Regions from separate parts of the Homo sapiens genome. Here region 1 is linked to region 2. The links come from fine-mapping of genetic effects on plasma protein levels. A gene starts in region 2. The other region holds a variant in brackets. All regions are shown on one strand. Distances are between the middles of the regions. Region 1 overlaps ENTPD3-AS1 (ENTPD3, EIF1B and MYRIP antisense RNA 1). Region 2 holds the start of RPL14 (ribosomal protein L14).

Region 1 (15,633 bases), 14 kb after region 2:
CAGCTAATTTTTGAATTTTCTGTAGAGATGAGGGTTTCATTATGTTGTCCAGGGTGGTCTCAGACTCCTGGACTCAAGTGATCCTCTTGGCCTCTCAAAGTGTTAGGATTACAGACGTGAGCCTCTGCACCGCGCCATGTTTTGTTTTTTGTTTTTTGTTTTTTAACTGTACATATTTCGCATCAGTGGGCTGCAAAGTCAGGAGCTAGAGATCAGCAAGCAAGATCAAGATCTTTGACACTTTTCACAACAACATAAACAATAGGTGGAGTAATTTATGATAATTCAACTCTGGGAAACCAGGGTGAATCACTGGTGTATGCTAGGTGACTAAAACAGTGCCTGGAGTGGAATAGGCCCTTTATAAATATTTTGAGTGAATGAATGAAAAGGCAAAGCCTTAGAACATACTAAATGTCTATCAAAAGAGGTCTGCTTAAATAAACCTGCCTGCAGAACTGCTGAAAAGCACCAGCTAGCTATACTGATCGAGAATGCTTTCCAGGATAGGAATGGAAAGTTCTGTGTGTGTTGGAGTCTTAACAACACTAGAAATAGAACCAGGGTGCAAAGAGCTTTCTGAGAGGCCTGCTAAGTAGGTGAAAAGCTCCTGTGTCACCATGGAAACAACTCTCCCCAAAAGGAATGACTACAAGGACAGGTGCTGGATAATGCAGCATAGTGAACATAGTGGTGAACAAGGATGCAGAATGAGTGACAGGGCATTCAGGGAGAAGAGATGCTAACGTGGTGCCATCTAGAAGGAATGAGCATGTATTAATTCATTTAGCAAACACTAAATGCCTCGTGTGTGCCAGAAACTATTCAAGGCATTGAAGACATAGTAGTGAATAAAACAGGCAAAAGTTCTACTCTCATGGAACTGTCATTCTAGTGGGTAGATACAGAAAATAAACAAATAGTGTGTCATATGGTGGTAAGTGCCACAGAAAAATAAAAAGGAGGATGGAGAGTACTAGGGTGGATTTGCTTTAGGGGGAAAGGGTAGTTATTTTAAATAGGGAAGTGAGGGAAGGCCTTGAGGAAAAAGTGACACTTGAATAGAGAACTTCAGGAGATGAGTGAGCAATTCATGTGGATGTCTGGGATTCCAGGCAGAGGGAACAGCAAGTTCTCTCTCAGCATGCGTGTGGAAGAGCAGGAAGACCAATGAGGCTGAAGTGGGGTGATTGAGGGAGAGATAGTATAAGATGAAGGAGCCAGGGCATGTGGAACCTTGGAAGCCACTGGAAGGACTTGCTTTCACTCTCAAGATAGGAGCCAGTGGATGCTTTAAATGGAGCAGTGACATGATCTGACATGTTTTTAAAGATGGTACAGGCTGTTGGGTTAAGAATGCCCTCCTCATCATAGACAGTAGGAGGCAAGGTTGCAGCTGGAGACAAGTTGGATGGGTGTTACATCTTGGCTTTTTTTTTTTTTAAAGGATTACATGAGTTAACATTCATTAAAGGCAGTAGTAATATGTTAAAAGGACAATGTTGGGCCTGAAAACCTGTGTTTTGTATGTCTCCATACCAGCAGGGACACTGTCTCAGAGGTCACTGTGGTGCTAATAAATATTCAGAACCCAAGTTGTACCAAATATTTACCATGGGAAGCAGTACTAGGGCTTAAATTTCTCTTGGCATAGATCCTGGATCAAAAATGTTTCTATTATTAAGAATTTCCACATATACAAAAATAGAATAGTATGTATAATAAACTCCCATGTACACATTACACTTTCTCAAAAATTATCCACACAGGGCCAATCTTATTTCATTTCTACTCATTTACTACTCTGTCTTCTGTTTTATTTTAAAAGCCAATTCAAGAAATTTTAGCCATAAATACCTCAATATGTATCTAAACGATGATTTCTTTAAAATAAATATAACCCCAATAGTATTATCACACCTGAAAATTAACAAAAATTCCCTAATATCTTCAAGTATTTATTCCAGTTTTGGAGGGGTTCTTGCGCCTTTGTCCATATTTTCTGAGAGCCTGTAGTTGATCAAAAGCCTTCCAAGAGACAACATCAGTTTTGGGAAGACCAGTATTTAAATTTTTATCAAGTGACTCCAGAATTGTGGCTGAGAACCAGTCACACACACACACTCACATAGAACATTTGTGTAGCTAGTCCTTATAGCACTTCTAACAAACACTAGGCACCATTCTGAGTGCCTTACAAATATTAAATTGTTTAATCCTTGCAAAAGCCCAAGATGTAACCTCTAGAATAGAGGTGATATTATTATCCTTACGTTGCAGGTGAGGAAACGGATAGGGAGGCTAAATAACTTGTGCCCCCTCAGATGGCTAGTCAGTGCATGGTTCAGACCCAGAGTCCATACTCTTAACCGTGCAGAATCCATTGAGGGTGTAAAGTTGTTAGGTGGATCCAATTAGATTGAGGAAATTAGCAGCGATCCTAGTCGAGGAATAAAATTGCATCTACTCAAACCTGAGTTGAAAGAAGTTATGATAAAAATTAAAGAGAACTTGAAGGACAGCTCAAGGACTTGTGATATACTTAGTTGTCAGATCATGATCTCAAACTTTTTTTATTTTTAATTTTATTTTTAATTTTTTTGTATTTTTAATTTTCATGGCTACATAGCAGGTGTATATATTTGTGGGGTACATGAGATATTTCGGTACAGGCATGTAATGCGTAATAATCATGTCATGGAAAATCGGGTATCCATCTCCTTAAGCATTTATCCTTTGTGTTACAAACAACCCAATTATAGTCTTAGGTTTTTTGTTTGTTTGTTTGTTTTTTGAGACGGAGTCTCGCTCTGTTGCCCAGGCTGGAGTGCAGTGGCACAATCTCAGCTCACTGCAAGCTCCGCTTCCCGGGTTCAAGTCATTCTCCTGCCTCAGCCTCCCGAGTAGCTGGGACTACAGGCGCTTGCAACCATGCCCAGCTAATTTTTTGTATTTTTAGTAGAGATGGGTTTTCACTGTGTTAGCCAGGATGGTCTCGATCTCCTGACCTCGTGATCCGCCCACCTCAGCCTCCCAAAGTGCTGGGATTACAGGCATGAGCCACCGCGCCCGGCCTCTTTTAGGTATTTTTAAGTGTACAATTAAATTATTGACTATAGTCCCATTGTTGTGCTATCAAATACTAGTCTTAGTCATTCTTTCTAAATTTCTTGTGTATGCGTTCACCATCCCCACCTCCCCCCACCACACCACTCACTACCCTTCCCAGCCTCTGGTAACCATCTTCTATTCTCTATCCCTATGAGTTCAATTGTTTTGACTTTTAGATCTCACAAGTAAGTGAGAACATGTGATGTTTGTCTTTCTGTACCTGGCTTATTTTCACTTAACGTGATGATCTCCAGTTCCATCCATGCTATTGCAAATGACAGAATCTCATTCTTTTGATGGCTGAATAGCAGTCTATTGTGTATAAGTACCACATTTTCTTTATCCATTCATCTGTTGGTGATCTCAAACTTAACATACCAACATAGAGCTCCTGATCTTCAGCAACCCCTCCCTATTAATCCACTAAACCTTACTGTTTAGTTTTCTCCATCTGTGTCAATGGCAACTCCATCCTTCCAGTTGTTCAGAGCAGATACCCTGAAGTCACCCTCAATCCTTCGCTTTTTTTTTTGTTTGTTTTTTTGTTTGTTTGTTTGTTTGTTTTTTTGAGACGTAGTCTCTCTCCATCACCCAGGCTGGAGTGCAATGGTGCGATCTTGGCTCACTGCAACCTCTGCCTCCTGGGTTCAAGTGATTCTCCTGCCTCAGCCTCCCGAGTAGCTGGGATTACAGGCGCCCGCCACCTCACCTGGCTAATTTTTTTGTATTTTTAGTAGAGATGGGGTTTCACTGTGTTGGCCAGGCTGGTTTTGAACTCCTGACCTCAAGTGATCCTCCACCTTGGCCTCCCAAAGTGATAGGATTACAGGTGTGAGACACCTTGCCCAGCTGATGTTTCACTTTCACACCCCATATCCAGTCAGACAAAAAATCTTGTTGGCTCTACCTTTAAAATTTTATTAAGAACCTGACTACTCTCCTCCTCTGTTATAATAAACCTTGTGCAAGCCACCACTATCTCTTGTTTGGATAACTGCAGTAGCCTCTGTGGTGGACACTTCTAAAATGGCCCCCAGTGATTTCTGCCTTCTGGTATTCACACCTTTGCATAATCCCTTCCCTTTCAGAAACAGCTGGACTTAGTGACTTTCTTCTAAGGCATAGACTATGACAAAAGTTGTGGGATGTACTTCTGAGATTAGAGTATAAAAGACTGTGACACCTCTGTTTGTCTCTCTGTTTTTCTTTCTCTTTCTCTGCCTCCCTCTCTTTTCTGTTTGCTTGCTGTGATGAAGCAAGCTGCCCTGTTGTGAGCTCTCCGGTGGAGAGCCCCACATGGCAAGAAAATGAGAAGCCCCCTGAACAGACAAGAGCTGAGGCCCAGGATACAATATCCTGAAAAAAACTGAATCCTGCTGACAGTTGCCCAAGTGAAGCTGGAAGTGGATCTTTCTGCAGTGGATCCTTGAGATGACTGTAGCCCTGGCTGACAACTTGATTGCTGCCTGTGAAGGACCCTGAACCAGAGGACTCAGCGAAATTGTGCCCAGATTCCTGACCTACAGAGGCAGTGAGATAATAAATGCTGTTGAGGTCACAAAGTTTTGAGGTATTTGTTAATACAGCAATGGATACTTAATACAGCTTCCTACATGGTCTCCCTCCTTCGACCTTTACACTACAATCTGTCGTCCACACAGCAGTCAGAGATCCTTTTAAAACATAAGTCAGATCATCATGACACTCACCTCCCTGCTAAGTGTCCTGCAAGGCCTTTCACGGTCTGATCCCCTATCCTTTCTCTTTCCTCATCTCCTATCACTCTTGCCCTTGCAAATTTTCTTCCAGCACTCTGGCCTCCTTGCTGTTCTTCAGTATGGCAAGCAACCTGCTGCCCGGAGCCCACACACTGACTGTCCCCTCTCCTAGGACACTCTTCCCTCAAGGGCTCCCATATCTTGCCTGCTGGCTCCTGCATCTTCTTCAAGTCTGCTCAAATGTCACCTTCTCAGTGAGGCCCATCCTGGCTATCCTCTTTCAGTTCTGACAGAAAATAATTTATTGCTTTATTACATCATTATTTTGTTGTCTTCCCTCCGTCTGTTCCTACTAAAATTTAATCTCTGAGAAAGCAGAAAACGTTGTCTTGTTCTTTCCTGTAACCCAAGTGCCTTGAACATTGCCTCATTAATTGCTTGCGCTCAGTAATATGTGTTGAATAAATGGGTTAAGTAGTTTATTAATTGTGAAACTAAATCCTGTCTGAAAGGTTTGGAGCAGCTTGTTGAAATAGCAAATGGAGATTCTGTGTTTTAAGTTGTGGCTAAGGTAGAATCATCCATGATGTATGTGGAGCCAGCTCCTGTGTCCTGGACTTAAACATCTGTATCTGACGTGTGGGTAATTATATTGCTATCCTACACCTTTGACCCATTCATCTCGGCTCACCTGTGATCCAGGCTATGCTACTAAAGTTGGGTGAGAGAGTCTGCAACACAAGGAAAACATAGAGCCATCATTTAGTAAATCAAACCCATAATAATACATTTTGTTGTTAAATGTAGCCAATCTCTGAGTATTTTTTATTAAAGTATCTCTAATGTTTAAAAACATCTAACACATTCATCATGTTTCAACTGTCCTCAGCCCCTGCTTGGCTTCCCTCCTGTATGTGTCAGTGCCCAAAGTCCGGAAGGGGCCAAGGTGGCAGGGGTCTGGCGTGTCAGTGCCAACCTCAGTGTGTGCCCACCTGGCTGGGCTGTGACAGT[G/A]CCCGGGTTCGGCCCCAACCTTGCTTCATGATTGGAGCGGGCACTGGGAGCAGGGAGAGGCCAGGCAGTGGGAGCAGACACTTCGCAGGGGGGCCTTCCTGGGCCCCCAAGAGCACAGAGATGCCTGGGTTTGCAGCCGGGCCTGGGCAGCTGCAGTGGCACCTGGGGAGGGCAGGGCTTCTGCCTGTTCCATGGAGTGTACAACCCCAGCCGTGCCTCCCTGCTGCAGCCGATGTCTTGGCAGTGGCCACTCTAGATGGGTCACTGCTGCCACCAATATGACATTAATGAAGTAGACTTAAAGTTTTCAGGGGATTTAATTAATCATGATTTTAAGTGGTGCTAATGTTTCTGGAAATTTAATCTCTTAGACTTGACTTATTTGAACATTCATCATAGAGCAAGCTAAAGTTATTGTTTCTAATTTACATAAAAATTACTACCTATAAAACAGAATAATAACTTTACAAGTTGAAATAAAAGGTTTAAGAAAATCTAGGTTTTTAAACATAAGACTTTAAAAATTAAATATTATTTTAATGGCTAGTAACTGTTGATAGTCCATTTGTGCACAACAACCCCCCTTGGGCATTTGAAAATAAAAATCTCTACTGACCATTTTGAAAGAATGAGTTTGAGGATACATCCACAGGTTGGAGCTTCAGCATGAGCAGGACATGGAGAGCCCAGGAAACTTGAGCGAAATCATAGGGTCACATCTGAAGAAGAAGTTGATTACATTCAATTCTGGTCACCTGGCCCATTAGTGGTGGCATCAGACCCAGAAGAGGCATCTGGAGGGGAGTTAGTGTGCATCAATTTTAGCAATGAGTTATAGAGTCTCTCAATAACTGTGGCTTAAACATTTATTTTCCTCTTTTGTGGGGGTCCTGAGCTGGCCTGGTCCCTCAGCTCAGGGACCCAGCTTACTCTCCCTACATCCCTAACATCCATGAGGTGGCTCTTATTCTCATTACTTCAGGCCTACAGATCCTGCCCTTACACTTTGCAGCAGGATAAAGGAAAAGGGCAAAAGATGGGTGTCCACTGTTCTCTCAGGAAGAGTCTTGGTTGCCATATCAGGACACTTCTGCTTCCTTTCCGTTGGCCAGAACTCAGCCTCATTACCAAACCTACAAGCAATGCTGGGAAATTGAGTCTCCACTTCTGGTGGCTATGAGCCTTGCTAAAAATCAGATATTCTAGAACTATTACTATGGAAAAAAGCAAAAGTAAATATCAGGAAATGGGTACTTACTACTTACACATGTTATGTGGGCAGCAGCAAGCTATAGGATGTGAAATTTTAAATCTTAAGACTTTATATGGAAATGGCACAGTTGAAATAGGATGGAAATGATAGTCATAAGTAGTCACTGAAATCTATACAGGAAAACATAGGCTTGTTCCTGCAATGTCACAAAACACCAGCTGGGGATTTTGTTCAAAACCCCAAAAATGTCATTTTAGGGCAGATAAGTGTTCTTTTAGAAACAGCATTTTAGAAACAATCAAAAAACCGCCAAACTGAGGAACAAATTAGCCTATGAGGAGGTATACATGGAAAGTATAAATTGGGTCTAAACCTTTTTCTCTCTTTCTGTTTCTTTCTTTGTTTCTTTGTTTGTTCTTTCTTTCTTTCTTTCTTTTCCTTTCTTTCCTTTTCTTTCTTTCTCTTTCTTTCTTTCCTTCCTTCCTTCCTTCCTTCCTTCCTTCCTTCCTTCCTTTCCTTTCCTTTCCTTTCTTTCTTTCTTTCTTCCTTTCTTTTCTTGCGATTTTCCTGCCTCAGCCTCCCGAGTAGCTGCTATTACGGGGGCCTGCCACCATGCCTGGCTAATTTTTTTTTTTTTTTTTGTATTTTTTAGTTGAGACAGGGTTTCAGTACGTTGGCCAGGCTGGTCTCGAACTCCTGACCTTGTGATCCGCCTGCCTCGGCCTCCCAAAGTGCTGGGATTAGAGACATGAGCCACCATGCCCGGCCCTAAAACTTTTTCATATGCATACATATTTTTTGAGATGGAGTCTCACTCTGTCACCCAGGCTGGAGTGCAGTGGCACAGTCTTGGCTCGCTGCAACCTCTGCCTCCTGGGTTCAAGCGATTCTCCTGCTGGGATTACAGGCGTGCACCACCATGCTTGGGTAGTTTTTGCATTTTTAGTAGAGTCGGGGTTTCACCATGTTGGCTAGGCTGGTCTCAAACTCCTGACCTCAAGTGATCTGCCCACCTCAGCCTCCCAAAGTGCTGGGATTACAGGCATGAGCCACTGCACCCAGCCAAGTATCTTTTTTTTTCTTTTTCTCTTCTTTTCTTTTTTTCTGATGGAGTCTCACTCTGTTGCCCAGGCTGGAGTACAGTGGCTTGATCTCAGTTCACTGCAACCTCCCCCTCCCAGGTTCAAGCGATGCCCCTGCCTCAGCCTCCCAAGTAACTGGGATTACAGGAAGCCACCACCACCCCAGCTAATTTTTGGATTTTTAGTAGAGTCTGGGTTTTGCCATGTTGGCCAGGCTGATCTTGAGCTCCTGACCTCAGGTGATCTGCCCGTCTTGACCTCCCAAAGTGCTGGGATTACAGGCGTGAGCCACCGTGCTCCGCCTAAAGCTTTTTCATAATTTAATCAATGGCATATTCCTAGGAGAAACCATAAAACGTTAAAATAAACTGCTTTGCTTACACAGAAAACAGCCTTCTTGTATAAAATCCTGGGCTGGAAGTTCTTGTCAACAGGTTACCCTTCTATTTTTTATTTTTTATTTTTTTTTGAGACAGAGGCTCACTCTGTCACCAGGCTGGAGTGCAGTGGCATGATCTCAGCTCACTGCAACCTCCACCTCCCAGGCTCAAGGTATCCTCCCACCTCAGCCTCACAAGTAGCTGGGACTACAGGTACAGCCACCATGCCTGGCTAATTTTTTTGGGGGTATTTTTTTGTAGAGACGAGGTCTTGCCATGTTGCCTAGGCTGGTTTCAAATTCCTGGGCTCAAGCAATCTGCCTGCCTAAGCCTCCCAAAGTGCTAAGATTACAGGCATGAACCACTTCGTAACCACCATCCAGACCAAAATACAGAACATTTCTGTGGCCGAATTAAGTTCCCTCTTTCTTCTTAACTTCATTTCCTGGAGTCTACCACTATTGTGCCTCTATATCACCATAGATTCCTCTTGTTTATTCTTGGCCTTCATATAAATTGTATCATACAGTATGTATTCTTTTGGGTCTGATTTTTTCAGCTCAACATTATGTCTGTGAGAGTCATCCATGTTATTCTAGGTATTAGGAGTTCAATCCTTTTTATTGCTCAGTAGTATTCCATTGCATGAGTGTAACACAATTTTTTTTTTTTTGAGATGGGTTCTCACTCTGTCCTCCAGGCTGGAGTGCAGTGGTGCAATCATGGATCACTACAGCCTCGACCTCCTGGGCTCCAAGTAACCCTCCTGCCTCAGCCTTCCAAGGAGCTGGGACTACAGGCACACATCACCACACCTGGCCATTTTTTTTTTTTTTTTTGGTAGAGCGGGGGTCTCACTAGGTTGCCTCCCCAAGTGCTGGGATTACAGATATGAGCCACCACGCATGGCCCAGATGTAAAGTTCTATCAACTTCATCATCATCTTTTTTTTTTAATTATACTTTAAGTTCTAGGGTACATGTGCACAACGTGTAGGTTTATTACATATGTATACATGTGCCATGTTGGTGTGCTACACCCATTAACTCGTCATTTACATTAGGTATATCTCCTAATGCTATCCCTCCCCACTCCCCCCACCCCACAACAGGCCCCGGTGTGTGATGTTCCCCTTCCTGTGTCCAAGTGTTCTCATTGTTCAATTCCCACCTATGAGTGAGAACACGCGGTGTCTGGTTTTCTGTCCTTGCGATAGTTTGCTGAGAATGATGGTTTCCAGCTTCATCCATATCCCTACAAAGGACATGAACTCATCCTTTTTATGGCTGCATAGTATTCCATAGTGTATATGTGCCACATTTTCTTAATCCAGTCCATCATTGATGGACATTTGGGTTGGTTCCAAGTCTTTGGCTATTGTGAATAGTGCCACAATAAACATACGTGTGCATGTGTTTTTATAGCAGCATGATTTATAATCCTTTGGGTATATACCCAGTAATGGGATGGCTGGGTTAAATGGTATTTCTAGTTCTAGATCCTTGAGGAATTGCCACACTGTCTTCCACAATGGTTGAACTAGTTTGCAGTCCCACCAACAGTGTAAAAGTGTTCCTATTTCTCCACATCCTCTCCAGCACCTGTTGTTTCCTGACTTTTTAATGATCGCCATTGTAACTGGTGTGAAATAGTATCTCATTGTGGTTTTGATTTGCATTTGTCTGATGGCCAGTGATGATGAGCATTTTTTCATGTGTCTATTGGCTATTTCCTTTAGAGGCTACTGAGTCACTTCATTCTGGCTGGTCCCCTCTACACCTTCATCACCATCCTGGAGATTTCCTTCCCATTTTCTCCCATATTGGATCTCCTTTTTTTCTGGAGTCGATGCCTTTTGTTTCCTTGGTTTAGTCTCTTCTTTTGGTGGAACACACCTTCCAGTTAGCTCCCTGTAAAAGGAAGCTGTCAGAAAATGTCTCTCTTCTATTCTCATACCTAATTGATCATTTTTGGCTGGATACAGAACTCTAGCTCAAACATGATTTTCCCTCAGAATTTTGAAGGCATTACTCCATTGGCTTCTTGCTTCCAGAGTTATTGTTGAGAAAACTAAATCCATTCTCATCTTGATCATTTGTATGTGGCCTGTTTTTTTTTTCTCCCTCTCTGAAAGTTTATAAGGGGTATTCTTTTTCTTTTTAATGTTCTGAACTTTTATAGCATTGTACATTGGTGTAAAGTAATTTTTATTTATTGGGCTGGGCCCTTTCAATCATGTCCATATCCTTCTGGTCAGGGTAAAATTTTCCATGTATTTCATGGGTGATTCTTCTTTTTGAAACTTGTGTTATTCAGATGGGGGTTTTGGTGGGCTAGTCTTAGAATTTTGTCTTCTTACTCTTTTTCCCATTTCTTTGTGTTTTTTCTTTCCTTTCTGAGGGTTTGCCTCAATGCTATCTTTCAACCCTTCTAGCGAGTTCTTAATGTCTGCTATCATGTTTTAAATTTCCAAGAACTGTTTCTTTGTTCTGAATATCTCATCTTTCCTTTAAAAAAAATTGTTTCTGAGCTAGATGTGGTGGGGTGTGCCTGTAGTTCCAGCTACTTGGGAGGCTGAAGTGGGAGGCTTGGGCCCAGGTTTTCAAGGCCAGCATGAGCAACATAGCAAGATCCTGTCTTAAAAAAAAAAAAAAAGAAAAAGAAAAAAATTGTTTCTATTTCATTGATGCAGTGTCCCTTATTTTTCTTATAATATTAATGAGTTTCTTTTTTTTGTTTAAAATATTTTTTTCCTTGCATAGTTTCTGTTTCTGCCAATTCATTTTTTCTTTTAGTTTGTTAGGCTCTTTATCCATATAATCTAGCTAATGGGTTTTGGCAGGCTAATGAATATATAAATTTGGAGTCAAGGGAAGAGGTTGGAGAATAAAAATTTTATCCAACTCAGAGAGCTGTTATAAAAATTAAGTGATGTAATGCATATAATTTGCTTAGCACAGGTCTGGAATATAGTAAGCATTCAAATGTTAGATGTTATTTTTTATTTTATTATTTAATGGCTGCATCATACTCTTTTAGCATAGCATATAGATGAACATAATTCACCTCGCCATTCCTCTACTGCTATTGAAGATCGGGCTTACTTTTTCACTTTTTACTATTATATAAATAGGGATTGGTATTTTTCTGAAAGCAGCTTTAGTCACATATTTTTAAACTTTCATTATGTAATATATATTTTTTTGAGACAGGATTTTGATCTGTTACCCAGGCTGGAGCACAGTGGCACGATCATAGCTTACTGCAGCCTTGACTTCCCAGGCTCAATCTGTTCTCCTTCCTCAGCCTTCTGGTTAAGCTGGGACTACAGGCACGTGACCCACACCCAACTAATTAATTTTTTTTTTTTTTTTTTTTTTTTTTTTGTAGAGGTAGGGTTTCTTTATGTTGCCTAGGCTGGTCTCAAACTCCTGAGCTCAAGCAATTCTCCTGTCTTGGCCTTCCAAAGTACTGGTATTACAGGTGTGAGTTACCGTGCCCAGACTCATTATGGAATTTTCAATCATGTACAAAAGTAAAGAAAATGGTATAATAAACTCCTGCATACCCATTATTTAGTTTCAACAATAGCCATTTTTGGTCAAGTATCCAAAGATGTTCATGTTTAATGGGCCATCTTGTTTTATCTATAGTATATGGATTCTATACCAGTGCTGTCTAATAAAAATATAATGTAAACTACAAAGGAAAACCATGTTTGTAATTTAAAACCTAACTTAATGTAACCTAAAATGTTCTAGTAGCTACATTTGAAAAATATGAAAGAAAGAAGTGAAATTTATTTATTTATTTATTTAAGACAGGGTCTTACTCTATTGCCCAGGCTGGAGTGTAGTGGTGCAATCATAGTTTGTTGAAGCATCAAATTCCTGGACTCAACCGATCTTCCAGCCTCAGCCTCATGAGTAGCTAGGACTATAGGCATGTGCCAACAGGCCTGCTAATTTTTAAAGTTTTTGTACAGACAGAGTCTCCCTGTGTTGCCCAAGCTGGTCTGGAACTCCTGGCCTTAAGTGATCCTCCCATCTCACCTCAGCCTCCCAAAGTGCTGAGATTATAAGTGTGAGCCATTGTGCCTGGCCTGTGAAATTAATTTTAATAATACATTTTATTTTACTCAATGTATCCAAAATATTGTTTTAATATATAACCAGTTTCCAAGTTATTAATGACATATTTTAATTTTTTTGGTACTAAGTCTTCAAAATCTAGTGTGTACTTTACATTCATTGCATATCTCAACTGGACTAGCTCAATAGCCATATGTGCCTAGTGGCTCCCCTATGAGAAAATGTGAATATGCTCACCAAACAGGATTAATGTGAAGCAGATCCCAGACATTATATCAGTGTATCCATAAATATTTCAATATGTATCTGTAATAACAATGTCCGTATTTTTAAAAAAGGTTTCCTTAGAATTAATTTTTAGAAATACGGTTGTTGGATTGAGGAATGTGCACTTTTAAAATCTTGCAGCATATTATAGCTACTTTTTCGGAACGTTAGATTAATTTACACTCCTTTCTGGAGTGTGTGATGGAGCCCATGTCACCCTCATAGAGTGTATTTGGATCCCTGACCATGGTTCTGAAATCTACAGAAAGGCAGTAAGACTTCCTCTCTGTTGTGAGAGGTCAAATTTTGTTTTGTTTTGTTTTAATGGCTTAAAACAAGTTTTATTCTCTTACAGTTCTAAAGGTCAGAAGTCTGAATTCAGTTTTACTGGGCTAAAGTCAACGTTTTGGCTTTTAGAGGTTCCTTTTGGAGACTCTGAGGGGATAATTTGTTTCCTTGCTTTTTCAGCTTCTCATGGCCACCTATGTTCCTTGACTTGCCCCTTCCTCCATCTTTCAAGTGCATCATCCCAATCTTTACTTGTATTCATCACACCGCCTTTTCATCTGTGAGAAGTCAAGTTCTAGTGATGATTCAGAGGTGACTTTTAAGCAGATAAGAGCAAAGGGACACAAGCAGGAACCTGCCAGACATAGTGGTGTGTACATGTAGTCCCAGCTACTTGGGAGGCTGAGAAGGAAGGATTGCATGAGCCCAGGGGTTCAAGTCCAGCCTCAGCAACATAGACCCCATCTCTAAAATAAATGAATAAATAAATAAATAAAATAAAATAAAATAAAAACATGGGCTTCTTGGAACTCTACTTTTATTTAGAAAAGAAGAAAGCAGATGACAGAAGATAGAGGGAGGTAACAATAACAAGAGAGACAGACTTCTGGGTAAAAATGGCTGATAAAACACAAACTGATATCTAAGTGCATATCTTCCTGATGCCTGACTAGAACAACAGTGGGGGCTGTCCTTAAATACTTGCCTTGTTTTCTTTCTTTCTTTTCTTTTCTTTTCTTTTCTTTCTTTTTCTTTTTCTTTTCTTTTCTTTTTTTTTTGAGATGGAGTCTCCCTCTGTTGCCCAGGCTCGAGTGCAGTGGCACAATCTCGGCTCACTGCAACCTCCGCCTCCTGGATTCAAGCGATTCTCCTGCCTCAGCCTTCCGAGAAGTTGGGATTATAGGCACCTGCCATCCTGCCCAGCTAATTATTGTATTTTTAGTAGAGATGAAATTTCACCATGTTGGTCAGGCTGGTCTCGAACTGCTGAGCTCAGGTGATCCACCCGCCTTGGCCTCCCAAAATGCTGGGATTACAGGCATGAGCGAGCCACCACTCCTGGCACCTCGTTTGTTTTCTGTTTAAGGTGAGGGGATAAAAAGCTGATTGGAAGTTTTGAGTTATTGATTCAAGCTTCACTGTAGGATAATCTGACTAGCAAACTGCAAATGCCAGCACATTTGTGTCCTTTCTCCTGGACTTCTTGGATTCCTCACAAAAGAATCTTCCAAAGTCCTGACTAGAGGGTAGAGTTAACCTAGAACCTGGGAGTTGATGGGGTTAGAGGCTTGGAGTCTAAACACTGAATATGCCTTGGTTTCCTTAATCTTGTTGTTTTGGTATGACACCTCCACCTGTAACTGTGCCTTGTGCCTTCCAGTTCCTGTGCTTGGGTTAGGAAGAGGCAGTCACTCATCAGCAAAGAGTAGAAGGTATCTAGGAACCACTATTCTTTTTTTTTTTTTCTTTTCGAGAAGGAGTCTTGCTCTGTCGCCCAGGCTGGAGTGCAGTGGTGCAATCTCGGTTCACTGCAACCTCTGCCTCCCGCGTTCAAGCGATTCTCCTGCCTCAGCTGCCTCAGTCTCCTTAGTATCTGGGATGACAGGTGCTCTACCACACCTGGCTAATTTTTGTATTTTTAGTAGAGACAGAGTTTCACCATGTTGGCCAGGCTGGTCTTGAACTCCTGACCTCATGATCCACCCGCCTCAGCCTCCCAAAGTGCTGGGATTACAGGCATGAGCCACTGCACCTGGCCAGAATCACTATTCTTAAACAGCTTTAATTATCTTTATTTTGTGCTTGCCAACCCAACTTGCAGCTGTACTTGATGCCACAGATTCCTGAGCTTTTTGAGAACACTGCTGTTTACATTGGTTGATTTTTTATTTTCTCATTGTTTTAGGATTGTGCTTTCTTGGGTCTGCTAAGTCAGTTACCCCTGGTCCACCATGCCAAAATGTTTTTGTTGTTTTCTTTTCTTCTTTTCTCTCCATGCTTATGGATATGTGCTGGTATAAACAGTTTTTGTTTTTTTAAGAAAATAGTCTGGATCTTAACCTTCCTCTTACTAAACCCTCTCTCCCTGCTATATTCACATGTCATTTAATAGCAACTCTATCCTTTCAGTCACTCAGGCAAAAATATTGGAATAACTTTTAACCCCTCTTTTTCTCTCTCACTCCATGTACATTCATCAGCAAACACTGTGGGCTCTACTTTCACATATATCCGGGGTCTGACCATTGCTCACAGCCTCTACTGCTACCAACCTGATCCAAGCCATCAGCATTTCTCATCTGGATTATTAAAATCACCCACCAACTGGTTTTCCTGTTTCTGCTCTTGTCTCCTTTGTTTTTTATCACTGTAACTAGAAACAGAAGCCAGATACCCCTCCTTTGTTCAGAACTCTAAATGGGGCCCCCTTGCACCATCTACTCCGTCTTAACTCCCTTACCCTATCTCCTC
Region 2 (8,196 bases):
GAAGATAAATTCTCCTTTTTTACAGAAAGCTTCCAAGAAGCTGGCAGCCTGAAATGGGATTTGGCTACTGCTCCCTTATTATTTAAAGCTAAGTTACACAAAAATACAGATCTTAAATCTTACCATTTTCTTTGCCTTCATAACTTTAAAACGATCAAAATCTGTCATCTTGGCTTTCTGTTAAAAAAAAAACAACAAATAAAAATTATCCCTCTCACACTATCTTGAACCCTCCAAAAAAAGAAAGGACCAGAATTCAAATGACCCTAAGTTATTACCCTTTCTCTGGCTTCAATCTTCTTGGCCCATCGTGTGGCTGCCCATTTTGTATTGATGTCTGCCTTCTGCCAGGCTTGTCGGACATACTTCTGGTGGGCACTAGAACGAGCCAAGACCACAGATTAAGAAATCAGCTTTGAAGTCACTCATTATCAAAGACACTTTCTTTGTTCCTTGAAAAGCACTCTTCCTGTTACACAACACCTGGTACACTATGTATTTTACTTATTTTTGTGTTCAGTAAGCCAGAATAGGTTATTAACTTCAAGCATATTTTAATCAAAACTGTAATCCAGTCCCTTTTTTTTTTTGAGAGAGGATCTTGCTTGCCACCCAGGCTGGAATGCAATAGTATGATCATGGCTCACTGTAGCCTCAACCTTCTAGGCTCAAGCCATCCTCCTGCCTCAGCCTCCCAAGTAGCTGGGACTACAGGTGCATACCAGCACACCCAGCTAATTTTTATATTTTTTGTAGAGACAGGGTCTTGCTACGTTGCCCAGGCTGGTCTCCAACTCCTGGGCTCAAGCAACCCTCCACCTTGGCCTCCTGAAGTGCTGGGATTACAGGTATGAGCCACTGCACCCAGCCCAGCCCATTTTATGAATTTAAAAACTACCTCTTGACCAGGCGCAGTGGCTCACACCTGTAATCCCAGCACTTTGGGAGGTCAAGATGGGTGGATCACCTGAGGTCAGGAGTTCAAGACCAGGTTGGCCAACATAGTGAAACCCCATCTCTACTAAAAACACAAAAATTAGCTGGGCGTGGTTGCAGGTGCCTATAATCCCAGCTACTTGGGAGCCTGAGGTTGCAGTGAGTCAAGATTGCGTCACTGCACTCTAGCCTGGGTGACAAAGTGAGACTCCGTGTCAAAAGAAAAAAAAAACCCTCAAAAAAAACACAAAAAACCCACCTCTGACTATATATAATTCCACTCGGGCAGTGGACGTGTTGAAAACCATTCTTTTTTTTTTTCTTTTTTTGAGACAGGGTCTTGCTCTGTAACCCAGGATGGAGAATGCACTGGCGCAACGTTGGCTCACTGTGACCTCTGCTTCCTAGGTTCTAGCAATTCTTCTGTTCCATCCACCCAAATAGCTGGGGCTACAGGAGTACACTACCACACTGGGCTAATTTTTGGACTTTTAGTGGAGACGGGGTTGGCTAGGCTGGTCTCAAATTCCTGACCTCAAGTTATCTACCTGCCTTGGCCTCCCAGAGTGCTGAGATTACAGGTATGAGCCACTGCACACATCCGAGCCATTCATTCTCGTAACAAACAAGGTAATTAATATTAACTGTTAGGCTTTTTTTTAAAAAAAAATTTACAGTAACAATTTGTGGCCAAACATCCTAAAAATAAAATCCAGGGTGTCCAGGGATCCAAGGCAGAATTACAAGAGTACCTAGTGAAAAATCTAAGTTACCAAGTATTTTCTACTGCTTTGAACTTTGACAAGTATCCTCAAGCTTCACCCCTAATTGGTATGTCACAGTAGTAGCAGCATGGCTATGTTCACTCGAGGTTGTTCAAGTGGCATGTTTTCAACTACCAGTACTTCAAAATCCATTATGTGTTAATACACGTCCCACAGTGCCTGTAGTGCTCAGCATACAGTAAGTTTTTTTTTTTTTTTTTTTTTTGAAACGGAGTCTCGCTCTGTCACCCAGGCTGGAGTGCAGTGTTGCGATCTCGGCTCACTGCAAGCTCCGCCTCCCGGGCTCACGCCATTCTCCTGCCTCAGCCTCTGAAGTAGCTGGGACTACAGGTGTCCGCCACCATGCCCGGAATATTTTTTTTTTGTATTTTTAGTAGAGACGGGGTTTCACCGTGTTAGCCAGGACGGTCTCCATCTCCTGACCTCGTGATCCACCCGCCTCGGCCTTCCAAAGTGCTGGGATTATAGGCGTGAGCCACCGCGCCCGGCCAACATACAGCAAGTTTTTGACTATTTTTTAAAGCATGCAAAATTACATGTTCCACTGCAACCATCATTGTGGGTTGAATTAACTGTATAGCAACACACTAAAGTGTTTTAATTTTCATGTCAAAAAAGAACTGCTATTCACTGCCTCACTTAAATGTAAGCTAGGGATAAAACCTCTTATATTAAATACTGTGTAACTGACACACACTGAGAGCTTATCTAATGATAGCTAGTAGCAATAAACACAAGACTTAGTATTGTTGTTTACTTTAAGCTAAAAATTTGGCAGAAACCAGAAGAAAAGAAGATGGCAAATCTAAACAAAGGCAAAGCCCTAAACTACCAGGATAGAAAAGTGACCTCAAGGCATTTATTTTATTTATTTATTTTTGAGACAGGGTCTCACTCTGTCATCCAGGCTGGAGTGCAGTGGCATGATCACGGCTCTCTGCAGCCTCGACCTCGCTAAAACGATCCTCCCAACTCAGCACCCCCAAGGCCCCCCTACCTGGGATTACAGGCGCGTGCCACCATGCCCAACGAATTTTTTTTTTATTTTTTGTAGAGATGGGGGTTTTCGCCATGTTGCCCATGCTGGTCTTGAAACTTGGGCTCAAGAGACCCTCCCACCGTGGCCTCCCAAAGTACTGGGATTACAGGCATGAGCTATCACGCGCAGGCAAGACATTTTAAAAGTAAATAATCCCTGTCTACTTCTATGATGCAAATCCCTCTTCAGGATGGCTCTGAATCTTCCGTATTGTTTACTCCAAAACAAACTTTTACTAGCATAAACAAATCTGGGGATGGGAGGGAGGAGTGATTAGTGGACAGTTACCTGTGCGGAAACTTGAGGATGAAATCAGTGAGCTGCATGCACTTGAAAGGCATGGCCTGTCTCCTCACTTGAGTGCAAGGTCCATCGACCAAAGCCTAGAACACAAACATCAAGAACTTCAGTGCAAAATCTAACAGCAATTAAAATGGTCAGATGGTTCTGTAACATTACTTATCCGTTCAGGGCCATCAAACCCACACTACTATTTTAATAAATTGCTCAGAAAAGACAAGGATTGTCCTATCTGGGTTATATATATGTATGTCTTTTGCTCAACACAAACATTTCTCCACATCATTAAATGCTCCTTCTTAAACTATATAGTACCCCATAGAAACCAACCACATGTAATTTACAGGCAACTTTAGGACTCTGATCCCTGCTGATTTATAGTCAGTGGTCAACTCCTTAGTTTGCTTGTTTCAAATACACAGCAGTAAATACAAAAGTGCTTTCTACGTGCTGGATCTGTTCTAAACTCACTTTACGTATAGTAACTCATTTAAAACTAACCAACGTTTCAGCCTATAACTGGCTCTAGCTTAAGTGGCTAATACTGAAATTCAATACTAATAGCTAACTTCAGGCTGTGCTTAAAACCCGTACCATTACCTGTTTCCTCAATGGTAAAATAAAGCGACTACCCATAGCATCCTCATCTTACACAGCCATCGAGACAATTCATTATTGCCATCTGCAGGGCACATGTCCACTGCCATGTTTAGTAAAAAGTTGTGACACTTACCCTGTTCTGATCAATAACATCTACAATCGCGACCAATTTTCCGGCATGAGGTCCAAAGGAGACATAGGCCACCCGGCCAACCTCCACGAAGCGCCTGAACACCTAAAATTGGAGGAGAAAGGACAGTGAAACTTACTTAGAAATACTCGCTACATATGTCACCTTCTGCAGCTAAAGACAACATGGTTAAATTCAGCGAAAAAGAATGCTGCAGGGAACAAACGCCCGAGAGCCAGGCGCCAACCTGGATGGACGAAATCAGCAAACGCCTCAGTAGCTTAAGCCCGGTTCCCAACGCCCGCCAGCTCCCAGGTCCGCAAGGCCCACACGGCAGGACAAGGCTCTCGGACCACGAGCCGCATCAGCCATCCAGCTCCAGCGGCGGAGGCGCGCACGCGTGGCCCAAGGCGCGCCAGGCCTGCCGGGCCCTCCACGCGCTCGCCAGCGGCGAGTCCGGGAAGGGCGCGAGTCCGGGAAGGGCCCGATTCCGCTGCACAGCCGGCCCGGGGACCCTCACCATGCGCTTCCCGGGACCCTCTGGGAGCCGTTTGGCGCCTCAGCTTCCCAGCGGAGGTGGAGGTCGAGCGGCATGGTCGACGGCCCCGGAGCCCGCAACAGTAAGACTCACCATGTTGGCGGCGTTAGGCGAGAAGGAAGAAGACCCGCCCAACCCTGCGCATGTGTAGAAGAACGCACCGCCCCTGCGGTAACGAGTCACCGACGTGAGCACCGATTGGTTGGTGCGTGCGTGCGTGCGTGCGTACGCACGCGCTCGCAAGCTCACTGGGAAAACATGGCGGAGTCGGCTGGCGTTAAGTTGCTTTTTGGCAAAGTTGGGCGGCGAGATTGTTTTTGGTGATTTGGATTAGAAAGCTGCAGGAGGGTCATCGCTTAGTAATTTAGGGTTAAGAGTACAGAAGCTATGTCTTCCGTTGGTCGCATGCCATTTGAGTTCCTTTTTATTTCCTCGAGTTTTATTTGTTGGTTATTCATGGCTAGGTCTGTTCGCTCCTCACGTTCTCTCCTAATCTCAGTAACTTTGTTAACCTTTCATTTTCAAGTAATTCACAGTTACAGAAATATTGCTAAACTAGTACAAATAATTCCCACAAACCCTTCTAGATTCCACAAATGTTAACGTTTTGCATGTGCTATATCATTTGAAAGGAAATTGCCGACATGATGTCCTTCTATCGCTACATTTTTTTTTTTTTAAAGACGGAGTCTCGGTCTGTTGCCCAGGTTGGAGTGCAGTGGCGGGGGCTTGGCTCACCGCAACCTCCGCCTCCCGGGTTCAAGTGATTCTCCAGCCTCAGCCTCCCAAGTAGCCGGGACTACAGGCGCGCGCCACCATGGCCGGCTAATTTTTTTGCATTTTTAGTAGAGACAGGGTTTCACTATGTTGGCCAGGCTGGTCTCGAACTCCTGACCTCGTGATCTGCCTCCCTCAGCTTCCTAAAGTGCTGGGATTACAGGCGTGAGCCGCCGTGCCTGGCGTTACATTCTTTTATAGAGACAGGGTCTCCCTCAGTCGCTCAGGCTGGAGTGCAGTGGCGCGATCATGGTTCCCTGCAGCCTCTAACTTCTGAGTGAAGACGATCCTCTCGTCTCGGCCTTCCAAAGTGTTGGGATTACCGGCGTGAGCCACCATGCCCAGCCTATCTATACGTTCTTAAAATGTGTATTTCCTAACAACAGAGAGATTCTCTTATGTCATCAGTACACTTATCAAAATCAGGAAATTGATATTGCAATAGTACTATTATCTAACCTTCAGTCCTTATTCAAATTTATAAGTTGTTGCTCCTATGTTCCTTGGAGCAAATGGGAAAAAAAATTGTTTTTCCAGGCTCTTGATCTAATGGAGGATTACAAATTGCAATTATTTATCAGGTCTCTAGTCTTTAACTGATAGTTTTAGATTTAACTGTTAAATTTGTAACATGGGTTTGTTGGAGTTTTCCTCATTGGATTCAGATAGTGAATTTTTGGTAGAAATGCTATGTCCTTGGTGCATCACATCAGAATACATTCTCTCTCTCTTCACTCTCTCTCTCTCTATATATATACGCACACACAAACACTTTTTTTTTTCTTTCTTTTTTTGAGATGGACTCTCCCTCTGTCACCCAGGCTGGAGTGCAGTGGTGCGATCTCGGCTCACTGCCACCTCTGCCTCCCAGGTTCAAGCAGTTCTCTGCCTCCCGGGTTCAAGCAGTTCTCTGCCTCATCCTCCCAAGTACCTGGGATTACAGGTGCCTGCCACCACGCCCGGCTAATTTTTGTGTTTTAAGTAGAGACAGGGTTTCACCATTTTGGCCAGGCTAGTCTTGAACTCCTGACCTTGTGATTCACTTGCCTCAGCCTCCCAGAAGTGCTAGGATTACAAACGTGAGCCACTGTGCTTGGCCACACACATATACATTTTTTCGAAGAGATGGGGTCTGGCTGTGTTGCCCAGGCTGGAGTGCAGTAGCTATTCACAGGTCTGATTGTAGCCTGCTACAGCCTTGAACTCATGGGCTCAAGCAGTTCTGCTTCAGCCTCCAGAATAGTTGGGACTACAGGAATACACCACCACACATGGGTTCCCAATATTGTGGTGGTATTTTATTCTTTAGATTTTTACCCAGGCCAGTGCAGAGAGGTGTTACCTTTTATCACTTGATTAAGGTGATGATCTTTGCCATGACAGTTCCCAGATGTATTTCAAGCCTTTCCTCTAAGCTCTATGCCAGCATATCTTCCCTGAGACTGCTCTAGCAGCCTCCTAAATTCTGTCTTTAATCTGTTCTCTGCTCAGCAGTTAGAGGGATCTTTTAAGTAAGTAAATCAGATCACATTATTTCCTGTTTTTAACAGTTCGATTGCTTTTCATAATATTTGGAATAAAATCTCAACTTCTTACTCTGGCCTTGTATCATATGCTTTAATACCCAGATACACCTTATGCCATCCCTCCTTCATTGTGTTGAAGCCACACTGGTCTTGAATGGGCCAAGCTCTCTCCTCCTCCATGACCTTTATACATGGTGTCTCTCTTGCCAGGAATGGTCTACCCATTGTTAATACTCATCGTGTAGCAGTGCCAACTTATCTCTTGTATTTTTTCCTAGATATTTTTCTGAGAGTTAACCAGGCTACCACATAAAAAAAGGTTAAGTCCCCACCCTTCTTTTTCTAGCTCACCTTGTTTCCCTCAGAGTTATCACAATTGCAATTGTTTGACTTGTTTTGCTGCCCACGTAGGTGTTGTTTCGTTCCAGTTAGAATAAGTTCCATGAGGGCAGGACCTTTGCTGTCTTTTCTGTTTTATTTTCTCACCTTAGTCTGGTAAGGGGCTCAATAAATAGGTAGTGAATGAATCAGTCTTTAGGTCTTGTTGTCTTGCTTTATAATTTACAAAGCAAAAGATATGAATGAAGAAGAATGTTCATTTTAGCATTTTTTTTGCTACTATCTCCAAACTGGAAATTACCCAAAGGCCCATAAACAAGAGACTGGATAAATTGTGATAACAATCTATAGCAACGGAGTCTACAGCAACTACATGGAACAATGCGGATGAATTTCATAAATAACACTAACAAATAAGCTGACACAATATATCCTGTATGCTTTTATTTATATCAAATTCAAAACAGGCAAAACTAATCTACAGTTCTTATAAGTAATGATCATATTTACCTTTGGTGCAGGCAGCAGTGGCTAAAGGGGAAAAGGGGAGCTTCTGAGCTGCTGGCCATGTTGTTTCTTCATCTGGTGTTAACTACGGGAGTGTGTTATTATTTTTGTTTTAAATTTTTTTAGAGACGGGTCTTGCTATGTTGCCCAGGCTGATCTGGTACTCCTGGCCTCAAGCCATTCTCCTGCCTAAGCCTCCCGAGTAGCTGGGATTAGGGGCACGGGCCACCCCGCCTGGCTGAAGTGTTTGCTTGTGAAAATTCAGAGCCCTATCCATATGGTTTATGCGTTTTCTCACCAAATGTATGTTAACCTAAAAAGTTTTTTTTTAATGCAGTTTCCTGGCTGTACAACCAGAGAACTTTATTTGCAGGTCTGGTGAGGGGCAAGAATCTGCATATAAAAACAAGCTCTCAAACACACTTTGAACTTCCCCGAACACAATTTGAGAAACACTTTGGGACTCCCCCTACAGTTACAGAATTATTTTCTAAAGTACATTATCTTGTTATATCACTCCTGTTTAAAGTTGATTTTTATCCCCTATCTTACAGGATATAGTCCAAACTCCCTAGTCTGGCATTCAAGGCACTCCAAAATCTTACTCCCAAACACCTTCCTAGCTTTTTTCTCCGACCATTCTGCGTCTCTCATTCCTATTTCCCGCAGCATTTCATGCAGCTTGAGCCCCCTGTTTCCTAAAATGTGCTCCCCACAAG

The links. PIP is the posterior inclusion probability: the model's chance that the variant is causal. The UK Biobank Pharma Proteomics Project read protein levels with antibody pairs (Olink). The fine-mapping took linkage between variants from a reference panel, not from the people measured, so its PIPs are less certain.
Region 1: its variant is fine-mapped to the plasma level of the RPL14 protein (UK Biobank, PIP 0.93).

The regions. Positions count from the first base shown.
Region 1 is chr3:40,435,582-40,451,214 of GRCh38, reverse strand. The region is part of intron 2 of ENTPD3-AS1 (ENTPD3, EIF1B and MYRIP antisense RNA 1); the gene reads left to right. Among named protein-coding and RNA genes, the nearest start is that of ENTPD3-AS1, 9.9 kb to the left of the region's middle. The variant G/A (reference allele first, on the strand shown) is at 5,841.
Region 2 is chr3:40,453,589-40,461,784 of GRCh38, reverse strand. It overlaps RPL14 (ribosomal protein L14), which reads right to left and starts at 4,446. Exons shown (of 6, transcript NM_001034996.3): 1 at 4,311-4,446; 2 at 3,794-3,895; 3 at 3,049-3,143; 4 at 279-378; 5 at 124-177. The coding sequence starts at 4,313. RefSeq lists silencers at 2,653-2,947, 4,161-4,210 and an enhancer at 4,353-4,647.